Linked DNA regions of Homo sapiens: all the other regions are linked to region 3. Evidence: fine-mapped expression QTL. A gene starts in region 3. Each other region holds a variant in brackets. All regions are shown on one strand. Distances are from middle to middle.

Region 1 (8,186 bases), 140 kb before region 3:
ACCTCAGCCTCCTGAGTAGCTAGGACTACAGGCACAGACCCTGTGGAATAAATGGTCTACAGGCTAGACCCTTTACTCCTAAATATTTCAGGGTGTATTTCCTAAGAACAAGGATGCTGTCTCACATAAACACAGTACAATTTATAAGATTCAGGAAATTTAACATTGATAGAGTATTATTATCTAATCTAAAGTTCATAGTCGAATTTTACTAAATAGCAGATGGTGGTGTTTCACACCTATAAACCCAGCACTTTGGGAGGCTGAGGTGGGAGAATCACTTGAGCCCAAGTTTGAGAGCAGCCTGGGCAACATAGTGAGACCCCATCTTTACAAAAAATATAAAAAATTAGGCAGGGGTGGTGGTGCATGCCTGTAATCCCAGCTACTCAGGAGGCTGAGGTGGGAGGCTTGCTCGATCACAGGTCTGCAAGTCTGCAGTGAGCTATGATTGCATCACTGCACTCCAGCCTGCGTGACAGAGAGCCTGACTGTCTTAAAAAATAACAACAACAACAACAACAGCAACAACAAAAAGTATTAACTGACGACCTTTGTAATATTCTGATCCAGGATTCAGTCTAGGACCATGTATTACATTGAGTTATCACGTCTCTTTAGTCCTCTTCAATGTGGAGGAGTTCCTCACTCTGGTCTTTTATAACATGGACACTTTTGAGGAATCCAGGCCAGTTCTGAATCTTTCAGTATGGGCTTGTCTGATGTTTCCTCACGAGTGGGTTCAGGTTACGTGTTTTTGTCAGGAATCCCAGATAAGTGACGTTGCCTCATGCTCAGTGCATCACATCAAGAGGCACCTGAGGTCGGTTTAACCCATTATTCCTGAGAGTAGTTGAGCACTTGGTCATACCCCTTCCATTCCAGAAATAAACAAAATACTGAATCATTCAAAATAATTTATCTTTTTATCAATGAGGCTTTCTTCTAAATTTCCAGAGTTACTTTAGATACTTGTCCCACAAATCCATTTTTTGGACTGTCCTGCAGAATTTGTGTGGATGCTTCAATAAATACTCAACACCCCTCTCTTTTACATGAATCCTCTTTAGGGAAAATAAATTGGAACAAATGTTCTTACATATTTGAAAGCAAATAATGAATACCACATGTGAAAAGCCTCCAACGCAGTGCCTCACACATAGCCCCCAGTGAGTGGCTATCATTACTATTCTTACTTGAGATGCCAACACATTTTCCATTCTTACACGACAAGAATCAGAACCAGGCACTGAAAGTCTCTTAAGTAGAAATTTGTCTGTGTTACTGGGTGACTTGGGGGAAATTTTAAAAGCTTAAACCTATAGACAGTATCATAAACTTTCCCATCAAAATAGATGGTTGAAAATGGGAATATTTTATATCCATGCTTTGAGTTTGGTTTTCCATGTATAAACTTAAGGTTAGAGAGCTTAATTACAATGTTTCTAAAAAGTACAATTTATGAGATTTAACAGTATGTATCATTCTTATATACATTTACCCAAAAATGCTCTTAAAAATACTTTTGGAAATCCATTGAGCAAGTCTCTAAACCACTTCTTCTATAATGCCCTAATCTCTCTTTTTAAATCACAAAATGTCTCTTAAGTTCTATCTTCTATTCCATTCATTATTTTCCCCTTCTGGATTTCTGGTTGTTTTTTTCCTTCATACAATAATACATTCATTATTTATTATTATACATTTCCTTCATACAATAATACATTCATTATTTTCCCCTTCTGGATTTCTGGTAGTTTTTTTCCTTCATACAATGCATATATCATATGCATTGTATAATTTATGTGCATATGATAGACACTTTTAACATAATTTATTTCTATTTCATTTCTTTGCTGGCAAATGTTCTCATTGTCCCCCTTCATTCCAATACACAGACTTCAGTCTCAGTGACTGATACATTCTTTTCCTCATCCACTCGAGTTTGAGAGCAGTATTCTCAAATTTTAAAGGTCATGCAAATCACTTGGGGATCCTGTTAAGATGCAGATTATGATTCAGTAGGTCTGAAATGGGGTTTGAGATTTTGCATTTCTGTCAAGCTCCCAGGAAATGCAGTTAGTTGTTGCTGGTCTGAGGACCTTGAGTAGCAAGGTGCTGGAGGATTTGACAATGAATTGAATTTTGTGCTAGGAACGGGGGACTTGATGAGGCAAAGGGAAGTCTATTCTAGGAAGAACAGACAGGGCAAAGACAATAACCTAGCACCTTTGGGGAAGTACATGTGGTTCAATGTGGCTGGAATATAGAACACAGAATTATCTGGTGATGAGGCTGGAGAAGATGAATCAGCTGGGTCACTGGAGTGCACAGGGCTGGGCTTTTATTTATTTTATTTATTTATTTATTTATTTATTTATTTATTTATTTGAGACGGAGTCTCGCTCTGTTGCCCAGGCTGTAGCGTAGTGGCACAATCTTGGCTCACTGCAGCCTCCGCCTCCTGGGTTCAAGTGATTCTCCTGCCTCAGCCTCCTGAGTAGCTGGGATTACAGGCACTGGAATGAGCCACCGCGCTGGGCCTTTCCACCACTTTTAACGAAATGTTACCTCCTTCCTTCTCAGAGGGTTGTTTTCCAATTCTTTGCAACACATATTCAGAGACTACGTGACATCTATGTCAGCCTTTATGGGATAACTCTTAAGTTGGTACTGTTTATGATGTTAAAGATATTTGCTTGAAAGCCTACTTCCTGTAACTTGGAATGACAATTTTCTGATCCTACTCAACTCCATTTTGGGTTATCATACCATATCATTGGACTGATCTCCTAAGTATCTGTATCAGTCAGGGTTCTCCAGAGAAACAGAACCAATGATGTGTGTGTTGTGCATGTAGGAGAGCAAGAGCCAGGGAGGGGTGTTTATTTTTAGGAGTTGGCTCCTGTGATTGTGGAAGTTGGTAAATCCAAACGCAGCAGGGTGAGCCAACAGGATGGAGACCCTGGGAGAAACTGATGTTGCAGCTCCAGCCTGAAGGCAGTTTTCAGGCAGAATTCTCTCTCCCTGGGGGATCTTCAGTCTTTCTCTTAAGACTTTCAACAGGTTGAATGAGGCCCACCCACATTATGGAGGATAAATAGCTTTATTCAGGGTCCACTGACTTAAATATTAATCTCACCTAAGAAATACCTGCACAGCACTGGGCTGGGAGTGGTGGCTCATGCCTGTAATCCCCGCACTTTGGGAGGCTGAGGCGGGCAGATCATCTGAGGTCGGGAGTTCAAGACCAGCCTGACCAACATGGGGAAACCCCGTCTCTACTAAAAATACAGAATTAGCTGGCGTGGTGGTGCATGCCTGTAATCCCAACTACTCAGGAAGGCTGAGGCAGGAGAATCGCCTGAACCCGGGAGGCAGAGGTTGCAGTGAGCCAAGAACGTGCCATTGCACTCCAGCCTGGGCAACAAGAGCAAAACTCCATCTCAAAAAAAAAGGAAAAAAAAAATACCTGCACAGCATCATCCAGATTAGTGTTTGACTAAATATCTGATTACTATCGCCTAGCCAAGATGACACATAACATTAACCATCACAGGCCAGACCTGGTGGCTCATGCCTGTAATCCCAACGGTTTGGGAAGCTGAGGCAGGAGGGTCATGTAAGGCCCAGAGTTCAAGACCAGCCTGGGCAACAGAGTGAGACCCTGTCTCTACAAATTTTTTTTTGTTTTTTTTTGAGATGGAGTCTCACTGTTGCTCAGGCTGGAGTGCAGTGGCACAATCTCAGCTCACTGCAACCTCTGCCTCCCAGGTTCAAACAATTTTCCTGCCTCAGCCTCCTGAGTAGCTGGGACTACAGGCGCGTGCCACCACGGCCGGCTAATGTTTTGTATTTTTAGTAGAGGCAGGGTTTCACCGTGTTAGCCAGGATGGTCTCGATCTCCTGACCTCGTGATCTGCCCGCCTCAGCCTCCCAAAGTGTTGGGATTACAGGCGTGAGCCATTGCGTCCAGCCCCAAATTTTTTTT[A/T]AAAAAATTAGCTGGGTGTGTTGGTGCATGCCTGTAGTCCCTGGTACTTGAGAGGCTGAGGCAGGAGGATACTTGAGGCCAGAAGTTTGAGGTTACTGCGAGCTATGATCATGCCACTGTACTCCATCCTGGTGACAAAGTGAGACCCTGTCTCTTAAAAAAAAAAAAAAAAACCATCACAGTACCCCTCATCCATTGTGAGGATTAAATGAGGTAACATACAGAAAGCGTCTGACAGAACGGTCCAGGCACTAGGGAACCAAAAAGCACTCTTGTGTGCACGTGCGTTTAACTCCTTTTATCAATGGCATGATTTTAAAGCTGTTTCACCCGAGTACACAGCAGGGAAGCCATCCTTGGAGAGCTGAACATGCACGAAAAGGAAAAAAAAAAAGCTTCAGGGAAAAACACTTGAAATTTTCATTTATCAGAAAGGATTTTGAAATATCTACTGTAACTTTCCCCCCAGTCTTTAAGATAACATAACTCAGTATGGCATTATGTTGGTACCAACAGTTGCTCTCAGTGGCATATTTTTTCCTGAGAACAAATATATCTGTGGACATCATCCCTTTTCAGAGCAAATATTTTGTAATGCCCCCTTTATTAACCTAAAATAAAATTTACAAATATACTCAATTTATATCATACCAATATAATGCCCTATTATACTGTAATTTAAAAGAAATTTAAAAGTAATTTATAATACTACTTTAATACATAAATATTGGGGCAGTAGATTAGAAAATATAATGAAGTTGGCCAGGCACAGTGGCTCACGCCTGTAATCCCAGCACTTTGGGAGGCTGAGGTGGGCAGATCTCCTGAGGTCAGGAGTTCAAGACTAGCCTGGCTAACATGGTGAAACCTCGTTTCTACTAAAAATACAAAAAATTGGCCAGTTGTGGTGGCGCATGCCTGTAACCCCAGCTACTTGGGAGGCTGAGGCAGGAGAATCACTTGAACCCAGGAGGCGGAGGTTGCAGTGAGCCGAGATTGCACCATTGCACTCCAGCTTGGGCAATAAGAGCAAAACCCCATCTCAAAAAATATAATGAAGTAGGCATCTATATACAGAGTCTTCATGAATGCAGGGGCTACAAATGAAGACTGACAGAGATGTCCTGTATTGGTGACTCAAATTCCATGGGTACCATAGCTACCAAACTATGTTACCATTGGAAACGCAGTTTTCCAAAAGTATATCAATTCTTGGTAAAGACCAAGTGACCACTTCTTGCTAAAATTCTAAATCTTACAAAGTAAAAATCTTCCCTCAATTTATACAACAATTGCATTCCTGGAGAATGCATTATATACAAAAATCATGTAAAAATACATTGTGTTTTTTATGTATAGCAGAATTATCTGCTTAATTATAAACAGGCTTTTTTAGCCATATAAATGTCCAGCAGGACATTTAAGGGTTACGCAGGAGGTGGGTGGGACAAGTCCTCATCCCATGGGGCTGTCTCACATGGTGCAGGACCTCTCGCCTATCATCTGAGCCCCCAGCCTCTCTGTGCCAGTAACCCTAACCTGGCATTATGCTAACCAAAAATGTCCCTGCATTTCCAAAACACCCCGGTTAAAAACCACTGAGATAAATAATCAGCTTGTTTTCAGCACGAATTATTAGAAATGAGACCTCTACATTTTATTAAATATAACAAATCGCATGCAGCACCAGGAAAATGTTCAAGATAAATTCAAAAGTTTTATTGCACCAAATGCCACAGAAAAATGGATCAAAATAATACATAAACAAGTTAAAAAAAATTCCCACACAATGACATTGGTATCTATTCAGACTGATCAAAAACGAAGTCCTATCAATTTCTCTTATGGAGCTTCAAATGACAAATTCCAGAATTTTCTCGTTTTTGAAATACCACTTAAGTTTAAGCATATTGCAATCTCACTTTCAAGATATATCGTTCATCATATTTTGACATTTAAAAATTAACATTCAGAGGGGACTTCTTGATTTAGGCAAAAATTATATTAAAATACCCTCTCCCCCAAGCACAATAAAAAACAAATGGTTCACATTTACCAAGAGAAGCTGAAGACATTTTCAATTTAACGTGGAAGTATGCATGAACAAAATATTCTCTAAAGTACATATTAGCGGAAAAATCCAGACTTTAAAAGAATTTTGGGATACTTTATATTCTTTATTATTTTTATGTACAACCAACTCTAGTGAAGAACCTAAAAAGCTACAGACTAAATTTTTATAAAATCTCAGGACCTAATTATAAGAGCCCAAACAACGGTTTAGTATCATTTAGCAAGCGGGGATTTTTCTCCCTCCAAAAACGTTAATTTTGAAAAATATGGTTAAGTTTAAAAAGTTGCAATGTGTAAACGGCAGTTCCATGGGATGTGAAAAGATTATAGTTACTTTCATTAAAAAACAGCACACTTCGAAAAATGGATTGAAGCCTGTACAAAAAGCTATTTAACACTGATTGATAAAAAATAAAATACTTTGGAATTATGCACAAGTATGGAAGCTACATTTTAAATTTTCATTGTCATGTCTAAAACGTACACAATTACCTTTACATTCATTTCACTTACCAATTTATTAAAAATAAAACTGCAACATGCTAGAAAGAGGTCCATCACAGGGACATTTACAGACTTCTGCTCTGTCATGCCTCACTAGCTTGCTTGGAAAAGCAAGATGCTACAAAAGTTACACTCAACAGGTAAGACTTAAAAGTTGAAGAAACCCTAAAGGTGGAATCCTGTCAACTGAGGTAGATTTCTTTTCTTTTTTAAAAAAAATTGTTTTATGTTTTTTCTTGAGGTGGGCATGGGAGCAAGTGGGGTCCCTTTCTTGCCTCTGCGGCTAAGCCAGAATGAAGCCACTGGGTGGTGTACGGCGTGTGAGCGGTGGATCTCAACACAATTCTGTGAGGTTTTTTTTTTCTTTTTTGCTTTTAGGAAGAGGCTGAATTTAAGACAAAGAAAACTTGAATGTTAAATATTTAAAGGATTATAAAAGAGCAGCAACATTCTTGGTCTATTTTTGTAGGCAATAGATATGAGGATTAGGTTCTGACTGGAATCCTGAGTGTCACGGAGACAGCCCCCACATGTGACCCACCTGTAGTTTTCCAACAGGCATTTTTCCAAGAGTGAGTTTTGGAACATTAAATTAAGAGCAAATTAAATTTTCTCAGGCTTTGAGGGGCCTGGGCTGAATTTTTTTAATGTATAGAGTTTAGAATCAACGATTTAAAGCTCAGTGTCCCCTATATGGGTCTAATTATGAACATGCCACTATGTCCACATTAGAATTGAACTGATTTTGTAACAAGTTATTTTCTATGAAACCCTGGAAGGTGGTGAATGAGGGAAAGTGCCCAAAACATGTAAACAAGAAAAAAGGAACTAGAGACGAGGGGAATGCTTTAAACTGTAAAAGCTGTAACATCAGCTCTGACAGTTTATTTACACGTAATGAGAAACGGATGTGGGGTGAGCTGAGCCACAGGTGAGGTTCCTTCTCTCTCTGTAACACAACAGCAAACAATGATGTCATGGAACTACAGAACTTAAAACACCAAAGTCAAATGCTAGGCAAAAGGAAATAGGAAAACATTAAAAAGAATGAACATTTCAATTTTCAATGAATGACATAAAATGATAAAGATCTTACAAAACTTAATGCACTCATCTACATTTTGCATCATTAAAAAAGGGAAAGGTAGCAGTTCTGATTTTTATCAAATGAAAAAACTGAAGTCATTCTAGTCCCTAATAGGGAAATTACTTCATAATCTTAGGTTCAAAGATACATGAAAAGAACTGGAATTAATTCATAAAACAGTGGAAGGGAATCAGAGCCTGGTTAACTGCTTGAGATCTGCAAAGTGCTAAAGATGTTTTGCTTTGCTAGCTTAGCTCCTGTCCTTTAATGACCAATATTTAAAAGTCTTTTACTTTACCCTGGATGTCAGTACATAGTCTGTTTCACGGTCAGTAAACTGAAGTTTCTTTTATATTAACAGAAAATTAGGTTGTTTTTTTTTTTTTTTTGCATGAACTTTAGGAAATCATTTTGGTCGGTTTTATACAATGTGTAAGTTAATGTCTGGAAAGATGTTTTGAAAAGGATGCAGGAATTAGAAGGCACAGAAATGATAATATAAAAATTTAGATCATATATGAATTTTTTCTA
Region 2 (8,186 bases), 320 kb before region 3:
CTGGGTCAAATGCTATTTCTGGTTCTAGATCTTTGAGGAATCACCACAACATCTTCCACAATGATTGAACTAATTAACATTCCCGCCAACAGAGTAAAAGCATTCCTATTTCTCCACAGCCTTGCCTGCATCTGTTGTTTCTTGACTTTTTAATCATCACCATTCTGATTGGTGTAGCTAGTATCTCATTGTGGTTTTGATTTACATTTCTCTAATCATCAGTGATGTCGAGCCTTTTTAAAATATGTTTGCTGGCCGCATAAATGTCTTCTTTTGAGAAGTGTCTGTTCACCTGTTCTTTGCCCACTTTTTGATGTTTTTTTTTTTTCTTGTACATTTGTTTAAGTTCCTTGTAGATTCTGGATATTAGGCCTTTGTCAGATGGATAGATGGCAAAATCTGTTTTCTCCCATTCTGTAGGTTGTCTGCTCACTCTGATGATAGTCTCTTGCTGTGCAGAAGCTCTTTACTTTAATTAGATTCCATTTGTGAATTGTTGCTTTTGTTGCAGTTGCTTTTGGGGTTTTAGTCATGAAGTCTTTGCCCATGCCTATGTCCTGAATGGTATTGCGTAGGTTTTCTTCTAGGGTTTTTATGGTTTTAGGTTTTACACTTAAGTCTTTAATCCATCGTGAGTTAATTTTTGTATAAGGTATAAGGAAGGGGTGCAGCTTCAATTTTTTGCATATCGCTAGCCAGTTTCCCCAGCACCATTTATTAAATAGGGAATCCTCTCCTGGTTGCTTGTTTTTGTCAGGTTTGATGAAGATCAGATGGTTGTAGATGTGTGGTCTTATTTCTGAGATCTCTATCCTGTTCCATTGGTCTATGTGTCTGTTTTTGTACCAGTACCATGCTGTTTTGGTTACTGTAGCCTTGTAGTATAGTTTGAAGTCAGGTAGCATGATGCCTCCAGCTTTGTTCTTTTTGCTTAGGATTGTTTTGGCTGTATGGACTCTTTCTTGGTCCCATATGAATTTTAAAGTTTTTTCTAATTCTGTGAAGAATGTCAGTGTCTACTGATTTATCTTGATGGTCATTTTTAAAATACTTGCAAGACACATTTTATGTAGTCTAACACAACTTCCATCAAGAACTATGGAAACTTGTGAAGACAAAGCCACCTAAGAATTTCTGGGAGGAATGGTAGCAGGAGTCTTGGCACTGAGTCTCAGACCGATTGGCTTTTTCCTGACAATGTGCTACAAGAGATCTTGAAGGAGTACAGGCACTTTTGCCTGATTAGAGAATCTATACTTTCCGTTACTATCTCAGTAGCACAGTTAGCTGTGGGCCTCTATCCTGGTACCTGCCAATATTAGAGAGTGGTCCCCTTTCTGAGGAAGTCATTCCTTTGGCTTTTCTTGTAAACACAGTGAGAATGAAATTGGAGAAATAATAACTTTAGTAAAGAGTTTCAATTCTCCCCTTTTCCCCAACAAAGTGCCAAACAATGTCCAGACCATAGAGCTGTCATTGTCCAATTTCTGTCCTTTCCCTAAAGTGAGATTATTTTGAAGAACTCTGGTCTCATGCAGAGCTGGAGACAGACTAAACCATGGGGATAAAATCTGTGAGCAAAGCTAGGCAATCATTGGGGAAGATGAGGGATAGGAAGGAAAAATATGAATTCTGAGTCCATGGTAATACCTAATTACGTTTCTCATACTTCATTTGGGAGATGTTTGAAACACATATCAAAAATAGCAAGCAGGGGGTGTAGGAGATAAAGAGAGAGGTTGGTTAATGGTTATAAACATACAGTTAGGGACAGGCGCGGTGGCTCATGCCTGTAATCCCAACACTTTGGGAGGCTGAAGCAAGTGGATGGCTTGAATGCAGGAGTCTGAGACCGGCCTGGCCAACATGGTGAAACCCCATCTGTATCAAAAAATATAAAAATTAACCAAATTTTTGTATTTAATTAACATAACAATTAATTTATGTACTTAATTAAATTAATTATTTTATTAATTCAAATATGCATTTAATTAGCATAATTAAAGTAATTTTATTAACAACAATTTTTTAAAGGTCTGGTGGTGTGGATCTACAGTCCCAGCTACTCGGTAGGCTGGCATGGGAGGGTCACCTGAGCCCAGAAGGTGGAGGTTGCAGTGGGCTGAGATGGCATCACTGCACTCCACTGCTCTCCAGCCTGTGTGACAGAGAGAGACTCTGTTTCAAAACAAATAAATAACAAATGTTAGACATAGAGAGACCCTGTTTCAAAACAAATAAATAACATACAGTTAGAAGAAATAAGTTCTAGTGTTTGATGGCATGGTAAGTTGACTACAGTTAACAACAATTTATTATATATTTCAAAATATCTAGAAGATTTGAAATATTCCTGACACAAAGAAACAATGAATGTTTGAGGTGATGAATATCCTACTCTGATTTATTGTTATTCATTGAATGGATGTATCAAAATATCACATGTATCCCATATATATACAATAATTATGTATTAATTTTTTTAAAAATGCAAGCAGGCATGGTTTCTAAATGAAGAGCTTTTAGCAGAGAATTCCAGATGTTACAATTTGTTTATTTATTTTGTGACAGGGTCTCACTCTGTGGCCCAGGCTGGAATGCAGTGGTGTGATCATGGCTTACCACAGCCTCGACCGCCTGGGCTTAAGCAATCCTCCTGCCTCAGCCTCCCAAGTAGCTGGGACTGCAGGCATGCAGCACCATGTGTGGCTAATTTTTTATTTTTATTTTATTTTGGTAGACATGAGGTCTCACTATGTTGCCCAGGCTTGTGTCGAATTCCTGGGCTCCAGTGAGCCTCCTGCCTTGGCCTCCCAAAGTGCTGGGATTAAAGGCATGCGCCGCTGCACCCAGCCACAAATTTTTTATTATGTACAGTTTACCTTTGTACCCAGACCTGGGCATATTTCATGTAAGAAAACTTATTTTAGTAGTGAATCCCAATTTTTCTTGTGAAAATCAATAGTCATTGCCAGAAAATACCAGGAATTTTAAAAGCCATGACGTTTTTTCCAAGACATTCCCACAGTAAGCTCCTAGAAAGTAATTTACACAACTGGTAAGAATGGCTGACAGATGTTGAGTGCTCACTATATGCCAAGCATTCTTCCGTGTCCTCCATGTGATTGTCTTATTTGATCTTCCAATAACCCTATGAAATGGGCACTATTACTATACCTGTTTACAAATATGAGAACAGAGACTTAGCATGTTCCCAGAGTCAGCATCTAGACACATACTCTTTGGTACCATCTGATTTTGGGGGTTCTTGGGTCTTCCTTGACTCATTTCTTAAACTTAGAACATCAAGTGCCATAATTAACCATTTGTTGGTGATTTGGTGATTAAGGTGACTTAGTCCTCAGCCCTATTTTCTTCTCTGTTTTTTGTCCATGAAAAATCTGACACGTTCTGAGAAATGTGACTACACTAAACTTGAATTTTATCCTAAATGACACCCTAGACCTCCAGACTTCTATATTTATTTTCCCACATCTGCAAATAGACTTATACAGACACCTCAAAATCAAAAAGTCCAGCAAAAAGAAATGAAGTACTTAGGGATAAATATAACAAAATAAATGCATGATCTGTATTCAGAAGACTATAAAACCCTTATAAAGAAATTTAAAATGTCTAAGTAAATGGAAAAATATACCATGTTTATGGGTTAGAAGACTCAATATTATTAAGATGTCAGTTTTCTGCCATTTGATTTATCAAATCAATGCAATCTCAATCAAACTTCTAGCAAGTTTCTTTATAGATATTAACAAGCCAACAGTAAAATTCATATAGAAGGGCAAAACACTTTTCTCTCTTTTTCAACTTTTATTTTAGATTCAGGGGGTACATGTGCCAGTTTGTTACCTGCATGATGCTGAAGTTTGGGGTATGAATGATCCCATCACCAAGTGCTGAGCTTAGTGCCCAACAGTTAGTTTTTCAACCCTTCCCTGCTCCTTTCCTTCCCCCAGCAAAACACTTTTGATAAAAAAGAATGAAGTTGAAGGATCCACATCACCCCACTTCTAGGTTTACTATAAAGCTACACTCATCAAGACAGTGCGTTATTAGCAAAATAATAGACTCATAGACCAATGAAACAGAATAGAAAGGCCAGAAATAGACCCACAAAAATATGGTCAACTGATTTCTTAGAAAGGTGCAGTA[G/A]AGAAAGGACAATCTTTTGATAAGTGGTGCTGAAACAATTTTGGCATCCAAATGCAAAATTAACATGTTCAAATTTAAACTTAGCATCTGTCTTCCAAAATCTTCTCTCCAAATATTCCCATATCTCACACCACCATCTACCCAGCTGCTCAGGCAAAACAAGGGGTCATCTTTGATACACTTTCTCATTTTTGGCCCCATAGTCAATCAGTTATCAAGTTATGTTGAATCACAAGGCCAATCCTCCCCACCACCATTCCTACTGTCTTTGACCTAGTTCAGGCATTCTTTCTCCTAAACCTTATTTTCTGTCTTTAATCCCTCCAAAATGCCATTTAAGGAGAAGCATTGCTGGAAGTAGTAGAGGAAACCATTGCTTCCCTGGGCACCATTTGCAAAAATGATACCTTTTAAATATGTTATGTTATTTTATTATTTTATTTTATTTTATTTTTTGGACACAGGGTCTAGCTCTTTTGCCCAGGCTGGAGTGCAGTGATGTGATCACAGTTCACTGCAGTCTCAACCTCCTGGACTCAAGCAATCCTCCCACCTCAGCCTCCTGAGTAGCTGGGACTACAGGCATGTGCCACCACAGTTTTAAAATAACATGTTGGCATGATGGTTTTTATGATTATTTTGGAAAAATGATACATTTCGTCATGTTGAAAGAAGGACTGTAAATTATGTAGAGAATACAGGCAAAGGGTAAGACCTTTTTATCCTGCCAGGTGCCTCCAGTCACAGTGCAGACTCAACCCCTGCTTGGTGCTTGCCCTTGGCTGACTCCCTTCTTGTTAGAGTCTGTCTGGCCTTTGCACAGTCATCTTTCTAAAAACCAAATCTGATCATGGAATTCCAAAGCTTAAGGTCTTTCAGTGGCTTTCCAATGCTTACTCCATAAAGTACAATTCCCTTTGCATAATATTCAAGAGCCCTGTGTTCTGGCAGGTAGGACTATTTAGTTTTTTCTTCTAATACCTTCTACTCCAATTATGCCTAATAATTAATTGCGTCTAGGAGAATTTGCCAAACTCTCTAATTCCTTAATGCTTTGCATATGCACCTCCTGACTACAATTCTCTTTTCTCCTTGGTTCACCTGTGAAATTCCTACTCCCAATTCCACCTTTATTTATTTATTTATTTATTTTTTTTTTGAGACGGTCTTGCTATGCTACCCAGGTTGGCCTCAAACTTCTGAGCTCAAAAGACCCTCCTGCCTCTGTCTCTCAAGTAGCTGCAATTACAGGTACAAGCCCTGATGCTGAACTTCCCACTCCTCTTTTATTAAAGACTCTCCTAAGCAAAGGTCTGTGGGCAGGTGGCATTACATACTAAATGGAGCAAGTGTCTGAGACACCTGAGTTCTAACCTAGATTCTATGTTGCCACACACCAGCTGTTTTTCCAGAGGCAAAATGCATACCTACCTCCTGTGAGCCTCAAGGCCTCTTTCGGGTGGAGGCAATATTAGCTAGATGACATATGAGAAATATGTGCGAAGGGAGTTTGTGGCAATGGCAAAAATGTTCTAGCCAGGTAGACTTGCTAGCATTTTTTACCCAAGATTTGTATTGCCATATCCTGGGCCTGTTCCCTACCTGGTAATTTGTATTGGCTTATGCCAACTGTCAACCCTTACCTACCCCTCTATAACTGTTGTATTTAGGACTTGCCCGGTGTATGACCACTATTATTATTGTTGTTGTTGCCATTATTACTTATTATTGTATCATTATAACCTGATTTATCACCTCCTTCCTTTCTCATCAGATAAATTAAGGCTTCTTAAACCATGATCCCATAGCAGCTTATACATACCATTATTATAATGCTTTTTACATCATACTGTAATTATGTGTCAAAAATCTGCCTCACCAATTGACTGTGAACTTGAGGACGGGGCCCTTGTCTTTTTATTTTTGCATATTCAGAGCCCAACACTAGCCCTGGCATAGAACAGTCACTAAGTTGTACTAATTGGATGAAAAAAAGAAGAAAACACCTATTTTTGATTAAGGCAGTGTAAGAAATATTGCTTTATTGATTCTTAGGTTCTGAGTTGGTAGAAAGCTAAAGTTGTAGAAGAAAAAATTCATCAAAAGAAACTAGATAGTTTGTTTTTAAAGGCTGGACTTCTTTAGAAAGTAATTGGCTTGGCGTTTTGTCCAGTGACTTCTGAGGTTGATTGAATTTATGTCTGTGTGCTTTTGTAAATCCGTTTATCTAAAATGAGTGACTTGGCCAGGCGCAGTGGCTCACGCCTCTAATCCTAACACTTTGGGAAGCCAAGGCAGGAGGATTGCTTGAGCCCAGGAGTTTGAGACCAGCCTGGGCAATATAATGAGACCACCCCCAACTCTACAAAAAAAAAAAAATTAGCCAGGCATAGTGGTGCATGTCTGTAGTCCCAGATACTTGGGGGACTTAGGTGGGAGGATTGCCTGAGTCTGGGAGGTTGAGGCTATGGTGAGCAGCATGCAGTGGTCACATCACTGCACTCCAGTCTGGGCAACAGAGGGGAGACCCTGCCTCAAAAAAATAAATAAATAAGTTTACACAAAATACTTATCAACTATGCTTCTTTTGATACTTGGCATTCTAATTTTAGTGATTATGTGTTTTTCCCCCCTACAGAAAATTTGAAAAAAATCATACATATTTTACCACATTTCGGTCCATCTCTCTGTCTCTGTCTGTGCCCATCTCTGTCTCTCTTTGTCTTTCTGTCTGTTGGTCTGTCTCTCTCTCTGTCTCTGCCTCTCTCTCTCTGTGTGTGTGTGTGTGTGTGTGTGTGTGTATACACATAGGGTCTTTTTTACTAAAGAATTTGCAAGTTCCAAACATCACGACACTAAACTTCAAAATATTTCAGCACGTACTTCCTACTGATGAAAACATTTTTTATCTAATCACATTAACAGTACAATTCGTAAGAAATTCAATGAAATAATTAAATATCATTAAAAGAAAAATCAGAAGTTGTTGGACTCTACCATACAAATTAGCATTACTTGACTGGACACAGTGGCTCACACCTGTAATCCCAGCACTTTGGGAGGCCAAGGTGAGTGAATCACCTGAGGTCAGGAGTTTGAGACCAGCTGGGCAACATAGTGAAATCCCATCTCTACTAAAAATACAAAAATTAGCCAGACGTGGTGGTGCATGCCTGTAATCCCAGCTACTCGGGAGGCTGAGGCAGGAAAATCACTTGATTGGTTGCAGATGGGAGGCAGAGGTTGCGGTGAACTGAGGTCACACCACTGCACGACAGAGCGAGACTCTGTCTCAAAAAAAAAAAAAAAAATAGCATTGTTTTATTGAGAATTGAATATGGGGGGGGTGGTGCACCATAATTTTGTCAGCATTAAGATTTCTAAGAGTCTGTATCCAGGCCTGGTCAGCCATGAGGGTACCATGGAAAGACAATCCAGCATGATTTGGGGGCACCTGCCCCAACCAGGAACAAGGTGTGCAACCAGGAACAATGGCTGTGTGCTGTGACTGTGGTAAGTTACCTTTTCCTATTCAAGGACAACTTTGCAAGAGTGCATCAGCCAAAAAAGTGTCTAAATTTAAACATATGCTTTTAAAAAAAACTAAATATGATTCCTTATATAATAGGGTGGGTGGTGGATTGTCTGCTAGATTACTCAGGGTGATTGCAAACCTGTTTAACACTCAAGTATCAAGCCCTATTCTGTTTTCCATGATTGCAGGAAGTTTTTCATTTTATTTTTTTTTTTAACACAAATACATGTGATAGCTTCGCCCTACATATAACCAAATTAAACGATTGCTCTATGCTCTACAGAGGTAGTCTGTAACTTTTGTAACTGTACCTGTCCTCTAAATACACTTCCTTATCTCATACAAAAGGATAACGGATAACTCATCCGCATTCATATTATTAAATTTATAGATTGCTAACAAATTCATAAAACACAACATGTAACAGGGCCTAATCCTTAGGTTTTGTTTTTGTTTTCAGACAGAGTCTTGCTCTGTC
Region 3 (8,186 bases):
GTAAGTTCTTAATTCTGTGCTTATATAAAAATCTACTCTTTATCAGTGTTTATCTGTTTGTTATAGTTTCCAATGTGTTGTCTGCTCTTTATTCATCTTAGTGTATAATCTGTTGTCCTTTAGATTGTAAACTCCAGTAGGTGAGACCGTGGGTGTCCTGCCTGGATTTATACAGGTAGAGCGCCAAGCCACAAGCACAGAGGCATCAGATGCTATGTGATAAGTGGATTAAATTATACTTATACTAACTCTATAACAGATTAAATTTGTTCTAACAAAACAGTGGGGATCAGCACTTACTAGGCCATTTGGCCTTAGGTATACTCTTCTCTGGCATTCACACAGCTAGCTAACAAGCAGCTGCAATGCCTTCACTTGTTCTTCATATCCCAGATAATATATATGCTTCCCTACTTCATTTAACTGCTCCAAAATAAAAGAACATCTGGTAGCCCAAGGTCTTTTCACCTCCCTGCTAAATACACATTTTAGGGGTTTGAAACTGCTCCATTAATTTACAAAAGACATGGAGAAAAAAACAACAACAACAAGAACAACCTTAAGATAATGCTTCAAACGTGAACCACACATGTAAGTCACTGGACATAGCGTGGCTTGAAAACATCCTGGCCTTAAATCCAAGGTAACCAAGAACATAATTCTATTTCTGACTTGAGTCACTGTACACATCATTTTTTTTGTCCTAATTTATTTTTCTGGTACGAAGCATTATTCAAATGTAAATGCCATAATCATATAGCATTCCTGACTACTTCTCCCAAACATGTAAGTTTGGTCAATCGTGATTCCTTTTGTTTTCCTAGCAACCTGTTTCCTCAAAGCTATGAAAAGGGCTTTCTGTCAAGATCCTAAAGGAAATACTCCAGAAGAAATCTTGACTATGATGATCCTGTTTTTAGATGAAATGCCAGGAAACATGAAGTCCTGAAAATGACCTGTGAGATAAACTAGTTATATTGGACAACAGATTTCCTCTCTAATCAAGTGTGTAAAAACTGGAGGAATGAGAACAGTCATAAGCCCAGCGAAGGGACTAGGAAGTGCACAAGAGTAAAAAGACTAACAACAAGGGCAAAACAATTCTGAGAAGAGAAGTTTAAAATAACCAGTGAAAGTCCATCATGGAAACAGAAGATATACAAACTCTAAAACAAACAAACAAAAAGTTGGATCTTAGATTCTCCCCCATATACACTACAAAACTGCCCCAAAAGTCTACCTGAATCCTCAGTGAATTTTCAATCTCCAGATAAACAAGTTACATCCTGTACTTAAATGCACTAAAGAATACAAATTCATGTTAGGAATACTCGATTTTTAATCTAAGGGTTTTAGCTTCACTTCTAAAACTCTATTTAACTACAAGGTAGTTCCCAAGGGCAGCTAATGCCCTGCAATAAGGCACCTTGTTCCCCTCAAAGTACATACCAACTCCTATTTGGCAAAATCTGGGTAAAATGAAACACAGGTTCACAATTTTTTAGGTAGAGAGAAAAATTTTCCTGGAAGCTTTTCCCAGGCCAGCTACACAGCATCTTAGAATTAAGCCAGGTGAAAAGAGCAAAAGGAAAGACTTGCTTGGGGTCTCCTTTGTCAGTCTGGTGAGCACAGGATGGTTTGTTCCCATCGTCCAGCATCCTTGCTCACATCTGCTACTTTACTTTCTTTTCCATGGTGACCTCTATCAGGGACACTATTGAAGGGGGCCCTCATCAAGTAGGATGTTCAACTGGGATCCCCAAATTCTCCAAAAACATCGATCTCAAATTCTTGTAGAAAATCCCAATGAGGTCAAAAAAAAGACCGTACTTGGCACGATTTTCTGTTCTTCATTATACACAAATGAGAAGTCAGAACACTACTGAAAATGTTCCCATGAAGTGGGAATCAATTTCCCTAATATGGCCCAAAACCCTAAATATAGCCATATTTTTTTTGTTCAAATACACTCAGTTAAACTTGTGGATAGCGGAAATGGTGGTAGGCAATTAGGCAAGGAGCACAGAAAACAATGACAAGTAACCGCCACTATCTCCTCCTGCATTCAAATGGCTTTAAATGTCCTTGGCAAGAGCTGTCAAAGTACAGACACCTGTAACATGCTCCTTCCGCTCCAGGCTTTGTACCCCTGATGGAGTCTGGGTTACAGGGAGGGAAGGGACGAAATTACACACCTTAGGTCCGAAGTAATTCTACCATTCTGAGAAGGTACATGGCATCACTAATACTCAGCCTAACAAAAGGCATAGAATTCCCACTCAAATTATAAGGCTTGTTAGCCTAAAGAAAACATGAGAATTTAACTTGGGGAGTTTAAGGTCCTCACAATATGCCTTCCATGAGCGCGCGTGCACACACACACACACGTTTAATTTTCACATGACCACAGTGAGAGACTGTTTTAAATGATGGAATTCAAGAAAAGCAAAATCTAGAACATAAAACTTAATCCAGAATTTATTTCAAAGTTTCACTTGAAACTTTTAAAGGTTTATTATACTGGGTCTAGATCTGTTTAACAGTGAACTGTTTTTGCAAGACATTTTGGCCAAAAAGCACCTAGCATAGTGTCAGAATTGGGAGTTGGTGCTCAATTTTAAAATGTGTTGAAAAATTGTTAAATAAACTTCTCAACATACCTGTGCTCAAAGGCAATATAGGACATTTTAAGGCGTCTTTTAAAAGTTAGCCCTTGAAATCAGAATAGCATAGGGATTTTAAAGACTGGAATCTGTGGTCAAACTGCTTGGGTCAAAACACAGGCTCTACCACTGACAGCTGGATTTTGGGCAAGCCGCCTAAGTTATCTGTGACTTTAAGTTTCCTCACCTGTAAAATGGGAATTATAATAGCACCCACCTCACCGCATTGTCAGAAAAGTAAACGACAGAAATCAACATAAAGCATTTTAGGTAGTAAGCTCTCCATAAATGCTATCAATATTCAAAGGTATGTGTTCGAGAGATCAAATCTATTAAATATACATATCAGCTTTGATCAATTGAAATCTCGGAAATTTCATAATTGCATCTTACTCCCCCTTTCCACACATCATGCGGCATCAACCTTCCACATGATGTGGAAATTACATACTTTCATTCATCCGTTTGAGAGCTTGTCATATATGGCAAGAAAGAAGAAAGATGCCTTTTTCGTGACTGTTGCTCCTTCAGAACTTCAAAACACTGTCACGTACACAATAGGTTGGAGCTGCCCTCAAAATGACAGCTCACAGCTTTGCTGGGCCCGCAGAGGTGCCCAGGCGGCTCTGCCCGGAAGGGGTTCACCCCAATAACCGGAGAATCTCCGGTCGCCACAGCCAAGCACAGCGCACGCCCGGGAACCCCAAGGAACACAAGAGAACTCTGAAATGGGGAAGGACCCTGAGTTGTGGAGAAAGAGCGGGAGGAAGGGTCACGGAGGGTCCGGAGCCACACTCGGATCAGGCGCGTCCACGCTGACAAGCCCGGGACCAGGTGCCGGCGATAGGCAGCGCCGTCCTGGACAGTCCCTTCCCTTTCCCCTACCCGTCCCCTCCCCGGCGAGCACCGAAGCCAACTCGGGTCCCGCGCCAGAATTGCCCCCCGGCGCCCCCTCACCTAAAGGCGGGTCCTTCCTTAGGAGCCCTGCCCTGGGCAGACGCCGCCGCGGAGCTGCCGCTGCTGCCCCTTTTGTTGAAGAGCTTCTGGAGCAGGGTCGGGGCCATGATGCCGCCGCCGCAGCTCCGGCCGTGGCGCTCGGGGGGCCGGCGGCTCAGCGCGCAGCCGGGGGCGGCGGCCGCGGTGGCGGGGCCATCGCGGCGGCGCGGCCGCCCAGCCTTGCGGGAGCGCGGGGCCGCTGCGACTGAGTAACTCTGCTCGGCGCCGGAGCCGCCGGCTGCCGGTCATATGACTGAGCCGGCCCGCCACCGCCTCGCGCGCTGACAGTTATCTCCTGCGGGAGGAGCCCGCAGCCCCACGGCGGCGGCGGCGGCGCGGGAGGAGCGCGGCGGCCCCGGCGGCGGCCATTGGCCCGGCGGCCGCCCGCCCCGGGCTCACGTAACCCCGGCGGGAGGCGGGAGGTGGGAGGTGCGGCCAGGAGCGGGCGGGCGGCCCAGTACTCCGGGCACGCGGGGGACGCGGACGGGGGCAGGCGCGGCACTTAAAGGGGCCCGAGGGGCGAGGGCGGCCGCCGGGGCGCAGCTCCGCGAGTGGCGTGGGGTTCCCACGGAGCCTGGGTTCTTTCGCACAGCGAGCATGCAGCTAGGCCGATCTTTGTTCTTTAGAGACAAAGCCCCTGAACTTGGGTCCTCGCTTTGTTCAGGTACAAGAGCCCGTTCACAGAAGGCGTATGCTAGGGGGGAAGGCTTGGTACGCGCGGTGGCCGCTTCGGTGGGCTGTGATTTGAATCACATAGCACCCAAGGTTTTGTCAGGTTTCCTCCATGTCCAAATTCGATTCCTCCAGGCTTTCACAAAATTTAAACTGTTTATCCAAATCATTTGTTCTGTTTGGCGTCTTGGGCCACCATACCATGGTTATATAAGAAGTTGCATTTGAAATATTAAGTCCCCCCTTTAAAACATACACACACACACACACACACACACACACACACACACACAGAACTCACTACATAGATTTAGAAACTTAAGATATTTTATAGCAAGGGATTGTTTTTCCTAATACATATTTAACAGTCAATCAAGGCATATCAGCAGCAGATATTTGGTTTGAGGAAGGGAGGAGTTCATGTGTTTGAGTCCGCTTTCCTGCCCTGTCCCACCCCAGTCCCCTTTGGAATTTAATCCTTGGTGGTGCAGGGCTCTAAACAGCCAGTGTAGGACACGTTACCAGACTCAAAGCAACTTCTTAATCTATGTTTTAGAGCGTTGGGCTTCACGAATTTTTCCGATGATGGGAAATAGAGATAAAGTTAGTAAGACCCCAACCATGCCTCTTCTAGCTTCTCCATGAGTAGTGAACAGTGACTCACCTGGGCTCTCTTACACTTGTTGAGAGGAGGACTCTTGGAGACTCAAAAAGGAAAATATATTTCCAAAAACATAAGTAATCAAAAGAACCTATTCTGGGCCTATTTTACTTTGCATTTTCTTTTTTTAATTGTGTTAGTTTCTGGACTTGGTTGGGAACTAGCTGTGAATAATGTGCTGAAATTTCACAAAGGTAAGAGAAAGGTGGTAGAAATGGAAACTTAGTCATTTGTTTCCTTCGGACTTTTACTGTTAAAATGGTGGATTAAGTGTTTATCCTGATGAGCAATCATCCTTTTGCACAATTGAGTGTACACAGAACCCTAATTTGCAACTTTGCTATTTCTGTTTGCTGAAGGCCTTTACCTCATAGGGCTGCCAGTGTTGGTCAGGATGCTATATAGAAGGTATTGGCTTTATACGTTGTGACTTTCAGATACAGTCCCAGGTCATACTGTGGCCAGCAACTCACCACCTTTCCTTACTCCATCCTTGGTCAGAAAATGTCCTTTATTCTCCAGACTAAAATCTGCATGTTCCTCATGAGCCTAGCAGCTTTTGTAACTGCATATAGAAGAGGAATTTGACATATTGTGCCTCATTCCTCACTTCCTAGGACTCTTTCAGTTCCAACCCAGTCCAAATAGACAAGATCATCCAAAAGAGGCAATTAAAAAATCATAACCTGCTCTAGCCATCATCTTCAATTTTGGTTTTGACTAGGCAACTATAAAGGAAGAGTGTGTATTTTAAACTATTAAAGCCAGGACTTCAGTTAAAGGAGACAAAAGGAACCAAAATGCTTCCCTTCTCCCCTCTTTCTCCCTGTGCTTCCTCTCAGCATCACATTCTTCCTCATCCTGGTTCTGGCCACACCTCCTCCTTTGGATTTTTAAAGTATACAAAAATCCTAGCCAAAAAAGTTCTGGGAGACAGCTCTAGCCAGCTCTCCCAGTCTTCTTGTTTTTTATTTTTATTTTATTTTATTGGCTACTCAAGGCCGCTACAAAAATCCAATCTTTTGCCCATCATCCATTGGTCATTGCCTGGTCCCTGAGGCTTGTCATAATCTCAGTCTCCAACACTGGTCACGTGGCCCATCGCCCAGTTCCATACATCTCCTTTATTCACCTCTTCCCACTCACCCTATCTTGGAAAATATACCAGCTGGCTGTTCTTGTACGCAGCTGTCAAGAGGAGCAGGGAATAAGACAATATCCTGAATGCTTGGAGATGACAGAACAACACTAAAATGGGAAAGGGGAAGTTGTAAAGGGCTGACTTACTTAGTCCGGTCCATTCTGAGTCCTGGTGACAGTTCTCAATTAGTGGATATTATGTAAGTTGTTTTAGTTCTGCTTCTGCAATTAGACTGTCATTGATACCGTTTGTAGCCTATGTAATACCTGTTACCCTTATTCCTAACAGGAGGCAAGAGAGAAAGGAGCTGGAGGAAAAGGAGTAATTCTGGAAAAAGTTTCCTCACTCTTAATAGAAAGAGAGAGAGAGAGAGATAGGTGGGTTTTTTTCTTCCTTTGGATGTTATATGTCTAGGTCTAATGCCATCTTGCTACAAGCCTAAAGATGAAACCAGGACTGGAGATGGCAAAGAGACATAGAAGCGAGCTGGGTCCTTGATGGCATTATTGAGCCACAATCCCTCTGCCCTAACCTGACACTCTCCATTAGGTGAGATAATATTTCTATTTTCTTATAGACCAGTCTATAAGAGGCTGAGGCAGGTTCGTGTTTTCTGTCCTCTTTATTGCTTGTTATGTGAGACACATAATGCCAATCTGTTTATCTCTCAATATGCCAGAGAAAATACTTGTCACCAATGGTCCTGTTCTGTTTTTTCATACTGTTAAGTGATTTTGCAAATTATTTACAGAGCTAAGACTAAAGGAATAGTGAAAAATAATTCTTTAAAAAATTTTTAATTTCAGTACAGCAAACCCGTTTTTTATTCTATATTTTCCTGCATTTGAAGGATTATTTACCCTAAATGGACAGTGTTCTTTGAACGTAACTGACTACTTATCAATTAGCATATATGAACCAGGAACACAATCATCTTATAAATATTGATTCCAGGCTTCAAATACATTTTTTTTTTTTTGAGACAGAGTCTCACTCTGTCACCCAGGCTGGAGTACAGTGGCGCAGTCTTGCCTCACTGTAACCTCCGCCTCCTGGGTGCAAGCAATTCTCATGCCTAACCATCCAGAGTAGCTGGGACTACAGATACCCACCACCACGCCCGGCTAATTTTTTGTATTTTTAGTAGAGACAGAGTTTCACCATGTTGGCCAGGCTGGTCTTGAACTCCTGACCTCAAGTGATCCACCTGCCTCAGCTTCCCAAAGTGCTGAGATTACAGGTGTGAGCCACCACACCCAGAATCAAATACATCTCTAACGATTCTAACTTATCATTACCTTTGTGCTGCTTGCACTTGAATAAACAAAAAGCAGTGCTTTTGAAAACTTTGATGGCTCATCATTTTGTTGAAGAGACAGTAGTTATTTTCTTTGTTTCTTAGTTGCAAAATATTTTCATTTTTAGATTTATAAACACCAAGTAGAATTAGCAATCCAATGAATTTTTTCATCTCTTCCTTATAGATTTCCTTCCCTTCACCTTTGTATATATACATCTGCCTTTATCATTTGTTATCTTATAAACTATATGAAGTATATTGGATGCACAACACCATGAAAGATGACAAGATATCACACTTTTTTAGGATGGCTCAGGTTCTTGTTGCAAAGTATTGAATAAGGAAGTAATTCCTATTAAATGTCAAACTGGATGAGAATACCCTATTTCCTTTTTATCCTTAGGTATATGTTGTTGAATTGTCAGTTCTTGAGTTTGAGAAAATGTATCTAGGATATCATTATCTAAAGACTCATAATCTGAGATTTCACTTACATGTTTCAGGCCAGCCACGATGGCTCACACCGATAAATCCCAGCACTTTGGGAGGCCTAGGTGAGAGGATTGCTTGAGCCCAGGAGTTTAAGACCAGTCTGGGCAACAGCATGAGACCCTCTCTCCACAAAAAGTAAAAAAAAAAATAGCTGGGCATGGTGGTATATACCCGTAGTCCTACCTACTTAAGAGGCTGAGGCAGGAGAATCACTTGAACCCAGGAGTTCGAGGAAGCAGTGAGCTATGATCACACCACTGT

Direction of the effects. Alleles are on the strand shown, and positions count from the first base shown. SD is a standard deviation of normalised expression in the study named. Not every link is listed here.
For the expression in tibial nerve of the gene that starts at base 3,914 in region 3, G is the low allele of the variant in region 2 and A is the other (large effect, 0.90 SD a copy in GTEx).

The links. PIP is the estimated chance that this variant, and not a neighbour inherited with it, causes the effect. A credible set is the group of variants that fine-mapping cannot tell apart.
Region 1: its variant is the best candidate, but not a certain one, in a credible set for the expression of FNIP2 in lung (TOPMed, PIP 0.57).
Region 2: its variant is the best candidate, but not a certain one, in a credible set for the expression of FNIP2 in tibial nerve (GTEx, PIP 0.53).

The regions. Positions count from the first base shown.
Region 1 is chr4:158,905,553-158,913,738 of GRCh38, reverse strand. FNIP2 (folliculin interacting protein 2) reads right to left here. Exons shown (of 17, transcript NM_020840.3): 17 at 5,689-8,186. The region is part of intron 4 of SPMIP2 (sperm microtubule inner protein 2); the gene reads left to right. It also overlaps the pseudogene LOC124900178. Among named protein-coding and RNA genes, the nearest start is that of SPMIP2, 130 kb to the left of the region's middle. The variant A/T (reference allele first, on the strand shown) is at 3,992.
Region 2 is chr4:159,084,229-159,092,414 of GRCh38, reverse strand. No RefSeq gene overlaps it. Among named protein-coding and RNA genes, the nearest start is that of RAPGEF2, 15 kb to the left of the region's middle. The variant G/A (reference allele first, on the strand shown) is at 4,174.
Region 3 is chr4:158,764,754-158,772,939 of GRCh38, reverse strand. It overlaps FNIP2 (folliculin interacting protein 2), which reads right to left and starts at 3,914. Exons shown (of 17, transcript NM_020840.3): 1 at 3,621-3,914. The coding sequence starts at 3,727. RefSeq lists an enhancer at 3,269-4,006 and a silencer at 3,964-4,173.